Linked DNA regions of Homo sapiens. The protein of the gene in region 2 purifies or fractionates together with the protein of the main gene of each other region. This does not show direct contact. Each region holds a gene or a part of one and is shown on either strand. Other genes may lie near its edges.

The links. The genes of interacting proteins can lie anywhere in the genome.
Region 1: the proteins of BOLA1 (region 2) and CIAPIN1 purify together in Homo sapiens (affinity purification with mass spectrometry; 3 studies listed by BioGRID and IntAct, with this or other methods). This does not show direct contact.

What each region holds. Positions count from the first base shown.
Region 1 is NC_000016.10:57,444,386-57,451,636, forward strand, and holds the start of CIAPIN1 (anamorsin), read right to left. Parts: upstream 3,001-7,251; 5' UTR 2,957-3,000; intron 1-2,956. Other genes in the region: COQ9 (ubiquinone biosynthesis protein COQ9, mitochondrial precursor), read left to right, coding at 3,121-3,193, 6,655-6,823. UniProt on the Homo sapiens protein: Component of the cytosolic iron-sulfur (Fe-S) protein assembly (CIA) machinery required for the maturation of extramitochondrial Fe-S proteins.
Region 2 is NC_000001.11:149,894,537-149,901,462, reverse strand, and holds BOLA1 (bolA-like protein 1), read right to left. Parts: upstream 1,896-6,926; 5' UTR 1,791-1,895; exon of another isoform or gene 1,733-1,790; intron 1,621-1,732; exon of another isoform or gene 1,454-1,620; 5' UTR 1,404-1,453; coding exon 990-1,403; 3' UTR 668-989; downstream 1-667. UniProt on the Homo sapiens protein: Acts as a mitochondrial iron-sulfur (Fe-S) cluster assembly factor that facilitates (Fe-S) cluster insertion into a subset of mitochondrial proteins. Probably acts together with the monothiol glutaredoxin GLRX5. May protect cells against oxidative stress.

The DNA of each region.
Region 1 (7,251 bases), on a different chromosome or scaffold from region 2:
GGGCTTCCACTTCTCTGTGGCTAGTTTACCTGCCTTTGCTTCAAGCAGTCCTATAAAACCCTGCTTCTCCTTAGCCATGCCTGATAGGAGGACACTCCAGGGAGTGATGGGAACCTGCTTTTTCATTGTTAGAATTAGTGTAAGAGCTGCGCTTTATGATCTTTGGACAGTACTCCAGTGGGACTGTGTCAGTAAATTAGAAGAATGTAAAATGCTTTGCGTTCCGTATCTCCCAAAACTAATCTTATGGCAAGAGGAGCTTATGAACTACATTCATTAAACATCAACCCTCAAAAAACAGGCATAGCCACTACTTTCAGTCAGCATTTTTCAAATAAAATAGGAGATAATATTCTTTTAAATATCTAAAGCCAAAGTGTGATACTTTTCATCATCAGAATTTTATGTTGCTGTTGTGAATTTGTCTTTTAAAACAAAAAAACCCGTAAGGAAAAAGTGTCCAGTATCTAAGACAACATGCTTAGAAGCTGTGAGTCAGGACCCAGTTTCATAATAAGAGGTAGCATCATTGTCACGTCACTGAGCTTGTTGGGTACCTCTCCAACTCTGACTGAGGCACACACATGTGCATGGCCCTTCTAAAATGTTACTGGCAGGCAGTAAAAGCGGATGTCTGAGAACAGACTGTTTTTTAGGTGCCCAGTAAGCATCAAATCTTGAGGCATTTGGTCTCTCTTCTGGTGAAAGGGGACAAAAGCAAAAAATAACACTGAAGTTTGGGCTTCAGTTCAAAAAATTCTTTAACTCGGGTGCATAAAAGAGTTCCAAGAATACTGACAGTTATCAGAAAGGAAAATCCTAATTAAAATTAACTAACTGGGCTGGGTGCAGTGACTCACACCTGTAATCCCACACTTTGGGAGGCTGAAGCAAGTGGATCACCTGAGGTCAGGAGTTCAAGACCAGCCTGGCCAACATGGAGAAAACCCGTCTCTACTAAAAATACAAAGATTAGCTGGGCATGGTGGCGTGCACCTGTAATCCCAGCTACTTGGTAGACTGAGGTAGGCAGAATTGCTTGAACTCAGGAGGCGGACGTTGTAGTGGACCAAGATCTTGCCACTGCACTCCAGCCAGGGAGACAGAGTGAGACTCCATCTCAAAATAAAAAAAAATTAAATTAAAAACATAAAATTAACTAACTGAAGCTCTTGTGCACATACATGTCACTGCCTGGCCTCTGGGTGACCAGTACCAAGTGGGCCTAACCAGCCTGCTGTGCAATCCAAGTCAGCCATTGCCCCTCTCTGGGCCTCAGTTTCCCTGCCAGCTTTAGCAGAATGGTAGGAAGGCACAATTACAACCTGCAAATGAGACCTAAGAAACCTACTATGTGCCTGTCCCTACACGGGAGACAGACAAGAAGACACTTGTTCCCTGCCCTCAAGAGAACGCTCTGTCTAGACACTTAGACTAAGACCTTAGAGGTTTTTTTTTTTTTTTTTTTTTTTTTTTTTTTGGCAGAGTCTTGCTCTGTTGCCCAGGCTGGAGTGCAATGGCACAATCTTGGCTCACTGCAACCTCCGACTCCGGGGTTCAAGCGATTCTCCCGCCTCAGCCTCCCAAATAGCTGGGATTACAGGCACCCACCACCACACCCAGCTAATTTTTGTATTCTTTGTAGAGATGCGGTTTCGCCATGTTGCCCAGGCTGGTCTCGAACTCCTGAGCTCAAGTGATCCACACGCCGCAGCCTCCCAAAGTGCTGGGATTACAGGCATGAGCCTGGCCCAGAATTTTTTTTAAAAAGTGAGAATCAACAATGAAACAGGAACGTCTCCAGGCATTTGGCGTGTGTCAGGAATTAGGGTTTCAGAAAGGATACCCAAATGTTAGTTTCCACAGGAAAGGCTCATTCAAAGATGGATGGATAGAACTCAGAAACAAATCCTTATGGAGAGGAGTGTTTTACCTAAAACCAGAAATATGGATCTAAAATTTTAACCTTTGGGGTAAGTTTTGGCTTAGGAGGTCTTCCCCGCACCCGTGCAGGGGGGAGCCGGATATTCTGAAAAGACTAGATTTGACAAGGGGTGTGCAAAGCACAACTTTAACAGACACAATGATGGGGTCTGACTGCAAACACAAAATCGACAGAATCACATGCTCTTGTCGTCAGTTACTCTTAGCCCAAAAACCGTTTACTTCTTCCTACTAAGCCTTCTCTGATGACACCCCCGTGAAGTGCTCTGTTAGTGGCTAGACCGTGACCTCCTTGAGCCATCCAGAGCTTGGCACTCAGTAATGTCAGAATGAAGGGCACCAGCCTTTCCCGAACTTGCAGATCCTACAAATCACCCGAGGGAGTGGTTAAAATGAGATTCCTGGACCACACCCAGACCCACTCAATCAATCCTTCTGGACAAAGGCCTAGCTGTCTGTTCTAGTAACAAGCATCCTTCCGATCTGGATACTTAATTATATCAACTCAACACGCTGGGGGTTCGGACAAGTTGCAGGTTCGAAATTACAATCGTGAGCTCAGGTACCCCCCGACTCCAAGGCTTTCGTGCTTTGCTGCCAGGAACCCCCAGGGACCAAAACGTCACGGGGACTGAGGCCCAAGGTCACAACGATTGGCTACTGGTAGGACCGGGTCTCAGAACCAGGTCTCCCCGATCCCAAGCTCGGAGCCGTTTCTCCTCAGCGTGGTGTCCCCGGGGCCTCAGAGTAGGGCCGGCTGCGCAAGGGACGAGGCAGCCGGGGAACGGCAGAAATTCCCAGTCAGGACCCCAGGGAGGTTAGGGCCGGCCCTGGCCCCTCACACCGACTTCTCAGGAATAAACCAGCCGGGGCTTTCAGCGGGGCGGCCGTGGCTGCGTTCCCATCGAGGAACGGGGTGGGAAGAGAAAATGAGAGGATGTGGGAACGAGGGTGGGCCGGGAGGGGACAGTTGAGGGAGCTCTGGCGCTCAGCTGGCCCCCACCACTCTCACCTGCCGCCTGGGCTCGCTCCCGGCTTCTCTCCAGCCGTCGACTCCACGCCTTGCGCCTCTCGCGAGAGGAGGAGGCTCCACGGAGCGACGACTTCCGCCCTCCTTAGGGCCGTGGTCCCGTAGCTACCGGTCGCGTCGCCGTGGGCGACGTGCCCGCTTCCAAAATGGCGGCGGCGGCGGTATCTGGTGCGCTTGGCCGGGCGGGCTGGAGGCTCCTGCAGCTGCGATGCCTGCCCGGTGAGGGGGCTGCCAAGCCGGGGAGAGGCGGGGAGCGCGGAGGGGGCGCGAGGCCGGCTTCAGCTGGGTTCGACGGTGGGGGGAAGAGGCCGTTGGGGCGGCCCACGAGCAAGGTGAGGTGAAGGGCATCGGCGCGGGCTCGGGCGAGCCGCCTGGCTAGCTTCGGCCCTGCTCCGCTGTCTGTGAGGGGCAGATGCAGCGGGGCAGGGCCTGTCACCCCCATTTCATGGAGTTGGCAGAGCCTCAGAGAGGGCTCGGGGTACGAAAGTCACGCAGCCTGAGCCTGTTGGTTACAGAACTGGCAGTCGCAGACCCATTCTCAAGTCCATTGCCAAGTCCACTGGAAGGACAGGTGGACACGGCCACAGAGAGCCTAGTCCATTGTTTCCCGAAAGCCAGCCGTTTCCTCACCACTTCACGAATTCTGTGATACTCTCTTACCACCTTTGCCACTATGTACTCAGTATTTTTATTTTTAAATAGGAGTTCTTAAAGAGGAAACTTTATATCATTGTCATAAATGGAAAACTAATATCGCCTTCCTTAATTAGAACGTATGCATTAACACTTTAGCATACATACATAACTGATGAAACGTTCACCTGTATTTCACCTAAAATCTTCTCATGACCCTCAGTGGTACTACAGTCATACTTTGCATCTGCTCCTTCCTTTTCAAAGTTTTGCGGATATTTGTGCCGTATCTTTCAGTACATGTATTAAAATATTGATATTTTGGCACATACTATTCTGTTTCTTTTTTTTCTTTTTTTTTTTTTTCTGAGACAGGGTCTGGCTCCTCAGCCTCCCAAGGAGCTGGGACTACAAGTGCGTGCCACCCTACTTGGCTTAATTTTGTTGTTGAGACAGAGTCTCACTCTGTCACCCAGGCTGGAGTGCAGTGGTACAATCTCGGCTCACTGCAGCCTCTACCTCCTGGGTTCAAGTGATTCTCCTGCCTCAGCCTTCCTAGTAGCTGGGGTTGTGCCACCATGCCCAGCTAATTTTTTATTTTTAGTAGACGGGGTTTCACCATGTTGGCCAGGCTAGTCCAAAACTCCTGACCTCAAGTTATCTGCCTGCCTCAGCCTCCCAAAGTGTTGGGATTACAGGTATGAGCCACCGCCTAGCCCCCTTTTGTTGTATTTATACAAAATTCCAAACTAAAGATGTGTAGTAAAAGTAATGTCTATGACCCCGCAAATCCACCAAGAGAAATGAAGGTATGTGTCTACAAAAAAGTTAGTACAAGTATATTCATAGCAATTTTATTCATAGTAGCCAAACACAGAAACAGTCCAGTTGTCTAGCAACAGAATAGTATTTTTTTTATGGAATACTATTCTGCAATAAAAACTAAAAATCAGTCAAAGAGAAAGCTGGACACTAAAGTGATAAGGACCATTTTTAATCAGTAATAACTATTGCAATAGGGAAAAGAGTCTAGCATGAACGGAGCCCAACCTTGAGTTTAGAGCATGCAGAAGTCACTGGGTGTTTCAAAGAAAAAATGAGGGAGGAGGGAGGAAGGCAGGTGGGGACTCAGTAGAGTCAGGATAGTGAATAATTATAAATAAGATTGGTCTGCTAGCTGGCAGTTAACAAAGTTAGGATTCTGTTTTCCCACAGGGAGACAAGCCCTATCCTTCTTAAGTGTTAGCCTGAACAAACAGTAAAATTTTTTTTGACAGCCTTGAGTTTTCTCAGGCAGGCACTTTAAAGGGGGGTAGGGTTATCTTAAGGGATGTGGCCCTGAGTGATGCTTATGTTAGTGTGTGTTCAAGTCTTTATAGGCCAAGGTTGAGGCCTAGATAAGAAGAGGGCTCAGAGGAGCCTGGTTAGAGCCTGATCAAGGAGAGAATCTTTGCCAGATATACTGATAGGCATAAAAATATGGATCAATCTCAAAAATATACTAAGTGGTCCAGGTGTGGTGGCTCACACCTGTAATCCCAGCACTTTGGGAAGCTGAGGTGGGAGGGTTGCTTGAGCCGAGGAGTTCAAGACCATCTTGGGCAACATAGCAAGACTCTGTCTCTATTTAAACTTAAAATAAATAAATATATATATATACACACACATATATAGTCCTAAGTGAAAGAAGCTTTACTGAAACATGTACATATAGATGAAATCTTAGGACAGGCAAAACTAAGACAAGCAAAAACTAACCTAGAGTGAAAAATTCAGAACAGTATGAATGGGGAATGACTGAAAAGGCATAAGGGAACTTTCTGGGGTGACAGTAATGTTCTCTGTTTAGATTGGGTTTAGGTTGTGCAAGTGTATACATTTGTCAAAACTCATAGAATGGTACACTTAAGATTTATGCATTTCATTGTGTGTAAATGGCATCTGAATAACAAAACAGTGAACGTAGAAGTCTTTGATGCTAAAATGTTTAGAGGTGAATAATACTGATATCTGCAACAAATGCACTGAAAATCAAGATGGATGAATGAAGAACATGACAGATGTGTTGAACCTAGTGGCAGATATACAGGTGTTCATTCCATAATTCTTTCAATTTGCGTGTTTGAAAATTTTTATAATAGGCTGGGCATGATGGCTCACGCCTGTAATCCTAGCACTTTGGGAGGCCAAGACGGGCGATCACTTGAGGTCAGGAGTTTGAGACCAGCCTGGCCAACATGGCGAAACTCCGTCTCTACTAAAAATACAAAAGTGAGCCTGAGAGTGGTGGCGGGTGCCTGTGATCCCAGCTACTCGGGAGGCTGAGGCACGAGAATCACTTGAGCCTGGGAGGCAGAGGTTGCAGTGAGCCGAGATAATCTCACTGCACTCCAGCTTGGCCGACAGAGTGAGACTCTGACAAAAAAAAAAAAAAAAAAGAAAATTTTTAGAATAAAAAATGTTGGGAAATAAAAAATACTATGAGTTTATGCTTAGGAAACATACTTCTCATCTTTCTTAAAGTAAATGGAGATGTTGCAGATATTGCAGATGAGAAAGCAGATAGAGATTAGTGACTTGTCCAAAGATACCATATAAACACTGGGGGAGTAGGGCTGAGACATTAAATTACTATTCCAGAGCTCTTGCCATAATATATATAAATCTGTAACATTTGCAAGCCACTTTTACTTTTTGTTTGGGCCACACAGTGCTCTCATTGAGCAAGTAGAGATTATTACTCTAAATTTGCAGATTTAAAAATCTGCACATTGGGGTGAAATTGTTTGCCAGTTACCCAGGTAACAAGTGGTAGAAACAGGTCAAGATGCTAGGTAGATCATTTTTCCTGGCTTACCACTTTTGCTACCACTTCGTGTCCCAAAGTTCCCAGTTTACCCAATATTTTTGTGTGGGACCCAACACTTGGATAAGTGGTTCTACAGGAGTCTCTGGCCTGCTTTTCCTCCTCCTTATCTGTGTTACCACTCTGGGTCTGAAAGGGTCTTCTCTGTTGAATGTCCCTGACTGACCAGTTTCTGTTTCAGTGGCCCGTTGCCGACAAGCCCTGGTGCCGCGTGCCTTCCATGCTTCAGCTGTGGGGCTAAGGTCTTCAGATGAGCAGAAGCAGCAGCCTCCCAACTCATTTTCTCAGCAGCATTCTGAGACACAGGGGGCAGAAAAACCTGATCCAGAGTCTTCTCATTCACCCCCCAGGTAGGCACCAATCCACCTATTTCTGGCCACTTCATATGCTTCATTATGTCTGTTCCTCCTTCACTTCCTCTCTCCTCTCCATCCCCTTTTGTACCTTCCTTCATTTCCAAGGCCATCTTTGTTTTTTAGAATTTTTTATTTTTTGTAGTGATGGCTTCTCGCTACGTTGACCAGACTGGTCTCAAACTCCTAGATTTCAAGCTGTCCTCCGCCTAGATCTCCCAAAGTGTTGGGATTACAGGTGTGAGCCACTGCACCCAGCCACAAGGCTGTCTTAGGAAAGAACCTATTGTTTTTATAAAATTGGTGCCTGTTTGTTCTAAAACACCTAAACAGTATAGAGAAGTTCACAAAAATAAAGCAGTTTTATCCAAAATTACAGAGATAACCCTGCTAACATTTTTGTGAATATCCTTTTAGATGTTTCT
Region 2 (6,926 bases):
GTTTGAGACCATCCTGGTCAACATGGTGAAACCCCATCTCTACTAAAAATACAAAAAAATAGCTGGGTGTGGTGGTGCATGCCTGTAATCCCAGCTACTGGGGAGGCTGAGGCAGAAGAATCGCTTGAACCCAGGAGGCGGAGATGGCAGTGAGCCGAGATCGTGCCATTGCACTGCAGCCTGGGCAACAAGAGCGAAACTCCATCTCAAAAAAAAAAAAGAAAAGAAAAGAAAAGAAAAAAAAGGCTATATAAAGGTTTCTTCATCATCTGTAATCATTTTCTTAGTTCTTATCCTCTTTTCACTGCTTTAGTGGTTTTTAAAAACATTTTTCTTTTAAACAAATACAAATACTACTTTTTGGAAATGAACAGGCTGTAAAAAAGCCAAACATTCCCCCCCTCAAGATGAAATTCAAATGTGTCCCTGCCTATATCCCCTGTCTTGTCCATTAACTCACTTCTCAGTCCAGCGTCTATGTCTTTGCTCAGGTTCTTCTCCCTGCCTGCAGCACCTATCCTCTCCTTTCTGGTTAATTTTGTGCTTTCCTTTAAAGATCCAACTAGATCACTTCCCTCATAAAGCCCTTCCCGACTAGTCTACAAGTATCTTTCTTCTCCCAAGAACACCTGTGGCACTGATTCAGCAGTCCATTAAGAACACAGCCTCATAGTGTAATTTCTTTTAATGTATAGGATTGTTTCCAACTCATCAGGTCTGGTGCAATTCTGTCACGATTTAACATGGAACATCCGGGCTGCCCTTCCTGAATAGTCCAGGGCAAGAGCAGTAGTGAGTGATTCTTCTCTTTTCTCGGGTTCACTTTGACCTGAAGCAAGTTGCTATCTTCGGAGAGTATGTATGGACCCCAACAGAATGGGGCCCAGGGGTCTTCATCCCTTACAAATCCTGGACTGTATCAAAGGGAAGGCCTCGGTAATTCGTGCTCACCCAGCCCATTCGGATCCTGGTCCTCCCTCTCTTGGGGTTCAGGGGGTTCCTAGAGTTTTCTTGTTCCCACCCAGGCATGGGGGGCTAGTGTCCAGCTGAGAGTTCTCTCTCCACTGGGCGGGGGTCCGTGCCTGGATGGCCAGCGCATGGACCGGACCTCCCAGCTCCTCGGCCAGCGCTGCGTGGACCAGCCGGTGTCGTTGTAGGGGGCTCAGTCCCTCGAAACGAGAGCTCACCACAGCCACGCGGAAGTGAGTCTCACTGCCAGGCGGGACCGCGTGGCCACCGCTCTCGTTGCGAAGCTCTAGCACCTCGGGGCTCAGGGCCTCCTCCAACTTCGTGCGAATGGCGGCCTCCACCGGACCGATGGCCCCGGATCCCGCGCTGCCCTGGCACAAACAAACGCGGCCAGCCATGGAGACCAGACCCAGGACCAGCCGCCCACTCAGCATGGGCTACGCCAGAGACTCAGACGCCAGGAGTGAGGGTCGGGGCGATCCGCCTGGTGAGAGCACAATGTCAACACCCGCCCCGCGATCCCCGCATCCGCCCTAACCCCACGCCCGGACGTCCACACCAGCTCCTATAGGGAGCCCGCCTTGATGCCACACGGGGAGACCCGAGACACCGCCCCTTTTCTCTACGTGACGTGGTGAATTCGACCTCCAGCTGTGGAAGTGAAGGGACAAGCGAAGATTAGAAAGGCCCGCACGCGAGGCGCGTTCGTTCCTTAGGGGATTTGCAAAGAATGGGCAAAAGTAGGGCATGTGCAACTGCGTACTTGTGGTTGGGCCGAAGCCCCTGTGTTCCCTGTGAAGCCCCGGAGACGCCCCTTCTACCTGCCGCTCAGCCTCGGCCACTGCGATTCCCGCTCAGGGCCAGGACTCTGGACGCTCCGGAGCAAAATGCAGTCCTGGCGCCCTTCCTGAGGCACGCTGGGAAATGGAGTCCTCGCTGCGCGTTGGTAGCACGGGCAGGCACCACGTGGTGCCCTGAGGGCTCATGGGAACTGTAGTCTCGGATTCTCCCCACTGGTAAGGTGGTCAGAAAGTCTGAACCCAGCAATGCAAAGAAAAAGGGAATTCACGCGCAGTTGGGATTGGGATTATTAGATCTATTTTACTGCCAATAGATCTTGTAGATCATCCAGCCCAACTCCTTTATTTTATATGCAAGAAAATGGAAGTCTGATTGAATACATAATTACTGTGCCCCAGACTAGTGCTGGGGACTGGGGAGTCAAGTCAGGCCCTGTTTTCAAGGAGACAACAGAGCACTGAAGACTAACAAGTGAGCGGACAATTGCAATACTGGGTACTAGGTGCTACGATGAGATAAACACAGGATGCTAAGGAGGCAAGTTACCCAGACTTGGCCGGGGTTGGAGAGGTGGAATGGGAGGCGGGCAGAGAATATTTCCGAGATTTAGGGAAACAGTTCAGCAGAAACAACATGAGAATCCATTTCTCAGTCCCTCATAGTGAGGTTTTGGCTTTGGTAGCTGCATGTGTAAAGGACAGGAGGAGAGAGAATTTTGAGGGAGTCTTTCCTTCTGGTGTAGTTAGGGTGTGGTTATGTGTGGTTGGAGCCTAGGGGGCAGCTGATGGTGATGAGTAGGGTACCAGGAGGAGAGGAACGGGCCAGACCACCCCAGGCCTTGTAGCCCTTGTTAGGCAATTTTGTCTTTATCCTAGAAGTAGTGGGAAGCTACTGAGGTTTTAAGCAGGGATGTAACAGGATGTAATTTTTCCAGGATGATTCTTAACTTGTAAAATTATTTAAATTTTATTTTGTATCCTTAATATATTTACATATTTCTAAATGTTTTTCCCCAACTTCTCATTTTGAAAAATGTCAAAGCCACAGAAAAGTTGAATAGTTCAAAGCAACACCCTCTACCTTTCACTTGACCCACCATTTTTTGCATTTATATTTATTTTATACTTGTACATATATACTCATATATTTAAGTACTTTACATATACTTTAAAATATATTTATATGCTTTTTTGGATGAACCATTTGAAAGTAAGTTGCAGATAGCATGACATTTCACCCCTAACTACTCCAATATGTATCTCCTAAGAACAAAGATATTCTCATACATAACCACAATAACCTTATCACACTCAAGAAATTTAAACTATGACATACACTGTTTTCCCTAGCCTTTAAAAAAAATTAAAACTTCCAGAAAATTTGCAAGATTAATACAATGAGCAACCCATTTATCCACTCTTCACCTAGGTTCACTGATAAGATTTTGCCAGACTTGGCTTTGTATCTCTTTTAATGTATGTGTGTATAATAATAATGAAATAATAATAATTATTTCTGCTGAATCACTTGAGTTAGGTGCAGAAATCTTATTTATTTATTTTTTTTTGAGATGGAGTTTTGCTCTTCTTGCCCAGGCTGGAGTGCAATGGCGTGATCTTGGCTCACTGCAACCTCTGCCTCCTGGGTTCAAGCAAGTCTCCTGCCTCAGCCTCCTGATTAGCTGGGATTACAGGCATGTGCCAACATGCCCGGCTAATTTTGTATTTTTAGTAGAGACGGGGTTTCTCCATGTTGATCAGGCTGGTCTGGAACTCCCAACCTCAGGTGATCCACCCTCCTCGGCCACCCAGGATTACAGGGATTACAGGCGTGAGCCACTGCGCCTGGCCCAAAATTCTTTTTTTTTTTTTTTTTAAACAGAGTCTCACTCTGTTGCCCAGACTGGAGTGCAGTGGCGCCATCTTGGCCCACTGCAACCTCCACCTTCTGGGTTCAAGTGATTCTCCTGCCTCAGCCTCCTGAGTAGCTGGGACTACAGGCTGGTGCCACCATACCTGGCTAAATTTTTTTGCATTTCTAGTAGAGATGGGGTTTCACCATGTTGGCCAGGCTGGTCTGGAACTCCTGACCTCAAGTGATCCTCCTGCTCTGGAACTCCTGACCTCAAGTGATCTGCCTGCCTCAGCCTCCCAAAGTGATGGGATTACAGGCGTGAGCCACTGCACCCAGCCACAAAATTCTTTTTTTTTTTTTTGAGATGGAGTTTCGCTCTTGTTGCCTAGGCTGGAGTGCAATGGTGCGATCTTGGCTCACAGCAACCTCCGCCTCCTGGGTTCAAGCGATTTGCTTGCCTCAGCCTCCCATGTAGCTGGGATTACAGGCGTGCGCCACCACTCTGGCTAATTTTGTGTTTTTAGTGGAGACGGGGTTTCTCCATGTTGGTCAGGCTGGTCTTGACTCAGGTCATCAGTCCGCCTCGGCCTCCCAAAATGCTGGGATTATAGGCGTGAGCCACTGCGCCTGGCCCCACAAAATTCTTTACACTTAATTGCTATGTACTTTCAATGTGTATCTCCTAAGAACAAGGACATTTTCATACATATCCACAATACCATTACCACATCCAAGACATTTAACATTCATACAATACTATAATCACATACAGTTGATATTCAGATTTCCCCAACTGTCTCATTGGTGTCTACTATAGTTTGAATATGTCTCCTCCAGAATTCATGTTGAAAATTAATCCATGGTGTTGGTATTAAGTGGTGGGGCCTTTAGGAGGTAATAAGGCTATGAGGGCTCCACCCTCAAGAATGGACTAACGCCTTTTGAAAGAGCTTGAGGGGGTAAGTTGGCCCCTTCTGTCCCTTCTGCCATGTAAGGTCACCTCGATGGCGTATCTATGAGGAACTGGCCTTCACTAGATACCAAACCTGCCAGTGCCGTAATCTTGGACTTCCCAGCCTCCAGAACTGTGAGAAAATACATTTCTGTTTATAAATTACCCAGTCAGTGGTATTTTGTAATAGCAGCACAGTCTAAGTAAACATTATAAATGTTTAATTTTCAGAAACCAATCAAGGATCATGCATTGCATTTAGCTGACTTTAAGTTTGTATTCTGCAAAGATCACTGGCTTCAGGGTGGAGAATGGATTGTAGAGGAGGCAAGAGTGGAAACAGGGAGACAAGTTGGGAGGTTACTGTAGCAGTCTAGGTGAGAGATGATGATGATTTGGACCAAGGTGGTGGTGGTGGTGGTGGAAATGGAGAGAAATTGTGGCTACAGGATGTATATTAGGAAAGTAAAACCTACAGGGTGTGGTAATGGCTTGGTTGTGGGAGGGAAAGTGTCAAGGATAATTACAAGGTTTGTGCATCTAAAGTTAAAAAAAACAGTTCAAATAATTCCTGTATATCCTTTATCCTGATACCTAGATTACCCAAATATTAACAATTCACTGTTTGTTTTATTTGTATGTACCTATCTACAAATATATAATTATTTTCTGGACTGTTTGAGACTAAGTTTCAGAGATAAAGCCTATTAAACTCTACCTGTGATGGTTAACTTTTTTTTTTTTTTTGAGATGGAGTCTCACTCTGTCGCCCAGGCTGGAGTGCAGTGATGCAATCTTGGCTTACTGCAACCTCTGTCTCCTGGGTTCAAGTGATTCTTGTGCCTCCGCCTCCTGAGTAGCTGGGATTACAGGCGTGGACAATGGCGCCTGGCTAATTTTTGTATTTTTAGTGGAGAGGGGGGTTTCACCATGTTGGCCAGGCTGGTCTCAAACTCCTGACCTCAGGTGATCCACCCACCTCAGCCTCCCAAAGTGCTGGGATTAGAGGCGTGAGCCACCACGCACGGCCTGTGATGGTTAATGTCCCAACTTCTAGAGGATTGGTGCTCAGATATTTGGCCAAATATGGGTGCTTCTGTGAGAGTATTTTGAATGAGATTAACATTTGAATTGGAGACTGAGTAAATTGCCCTCCCTAATATAGGTGGGTCCCATCCAACCAGTTGAAAGCTTGACTAGAACAAAAGACTGACCCACTCCGGAGTAAGAGAGACTTCCTTCTGCCTGACTGCTTTGAGACCCGGACATTGGCTTTTCTCAGCCTTCAGACTCAGAAGTAAACACTGGCTCCATCTGGGTCTTAGACTCGGCCTTTGGACTGGAACTACACCATTGGTTCTCAGGCCTTTGAACTTGGACTGGAACTATATCATCAGTTCTCCTGGGTCTCCAGCTTGCCAACTTACCCTGAAGATCTTGGGGATCTTGGGATTTATTAGCTTCCATAATCAAAAAGCCAATTTTTTATAATAAAACTATCTATCAAAATATCTACCATTCGTTCTGTTTCCCTGGAGAATCCTGACTGATGTATATTTACTTAAAAAAAAAAATTTTCTCACATAGCCGGAATATAACTGTCAGACTCTAGAAATGAACACAGATACGGTACTATTATCTAATCTACAGACCTTATTCAAAATTTGCCAATTGTTCCACTACTATCATATATATAAAATGAAAAGAAATATCTTCTGGTCCAGGATCCAATCTAGGATGACGTGTTGCATTCAGTTGTTATATTTCTTTGTTCTCCATTAACTTGAAATAGTTTCCTAGATTTTCTTTGTCTTTCATGACTTTGGTAATTTTGAAGTTACAGACATTTATTTTGTAGAATGTCCCTCAATCTGGGTTTGTCTGATGTTTCTTTATGATTAAAATTTAGCACATGCATTTTTGGCTGGAATACTGCAGAAGTAATGTTGAATTCTTCTCTGTGAACCTTACCAGGGCACGTGATCTTTTTGTTATTACTAGTGATAGTTCTGATCACTTGATTAAGATGGTATCTGTCAGGCTTTTCCACTATAAAATTCCTTTTCTGTCTGTAATTGTGGAAGATACTCTAAGTGTATCTACTTTCCTAATTCTCATTAAGTTTTTTCCCACTAATTTTAGCATGTGAGAAGTATATTTGAGACATCTCTTAGTTAGGGGTTGTTGAAGATGAAATGAGATCATGGGGGTGGGGCTGGGGTGTGGTATGTGATCACCTGGGGAGAGAGTGTACAGTGAGAAAAGAATCAGAATGTCTATTAGAAAGGCCACTCTGGTGAGGAGTGGGAAGAGTAGAAGCAGGGAGAGGAGTAGAAAAGTCTTTGTTGGT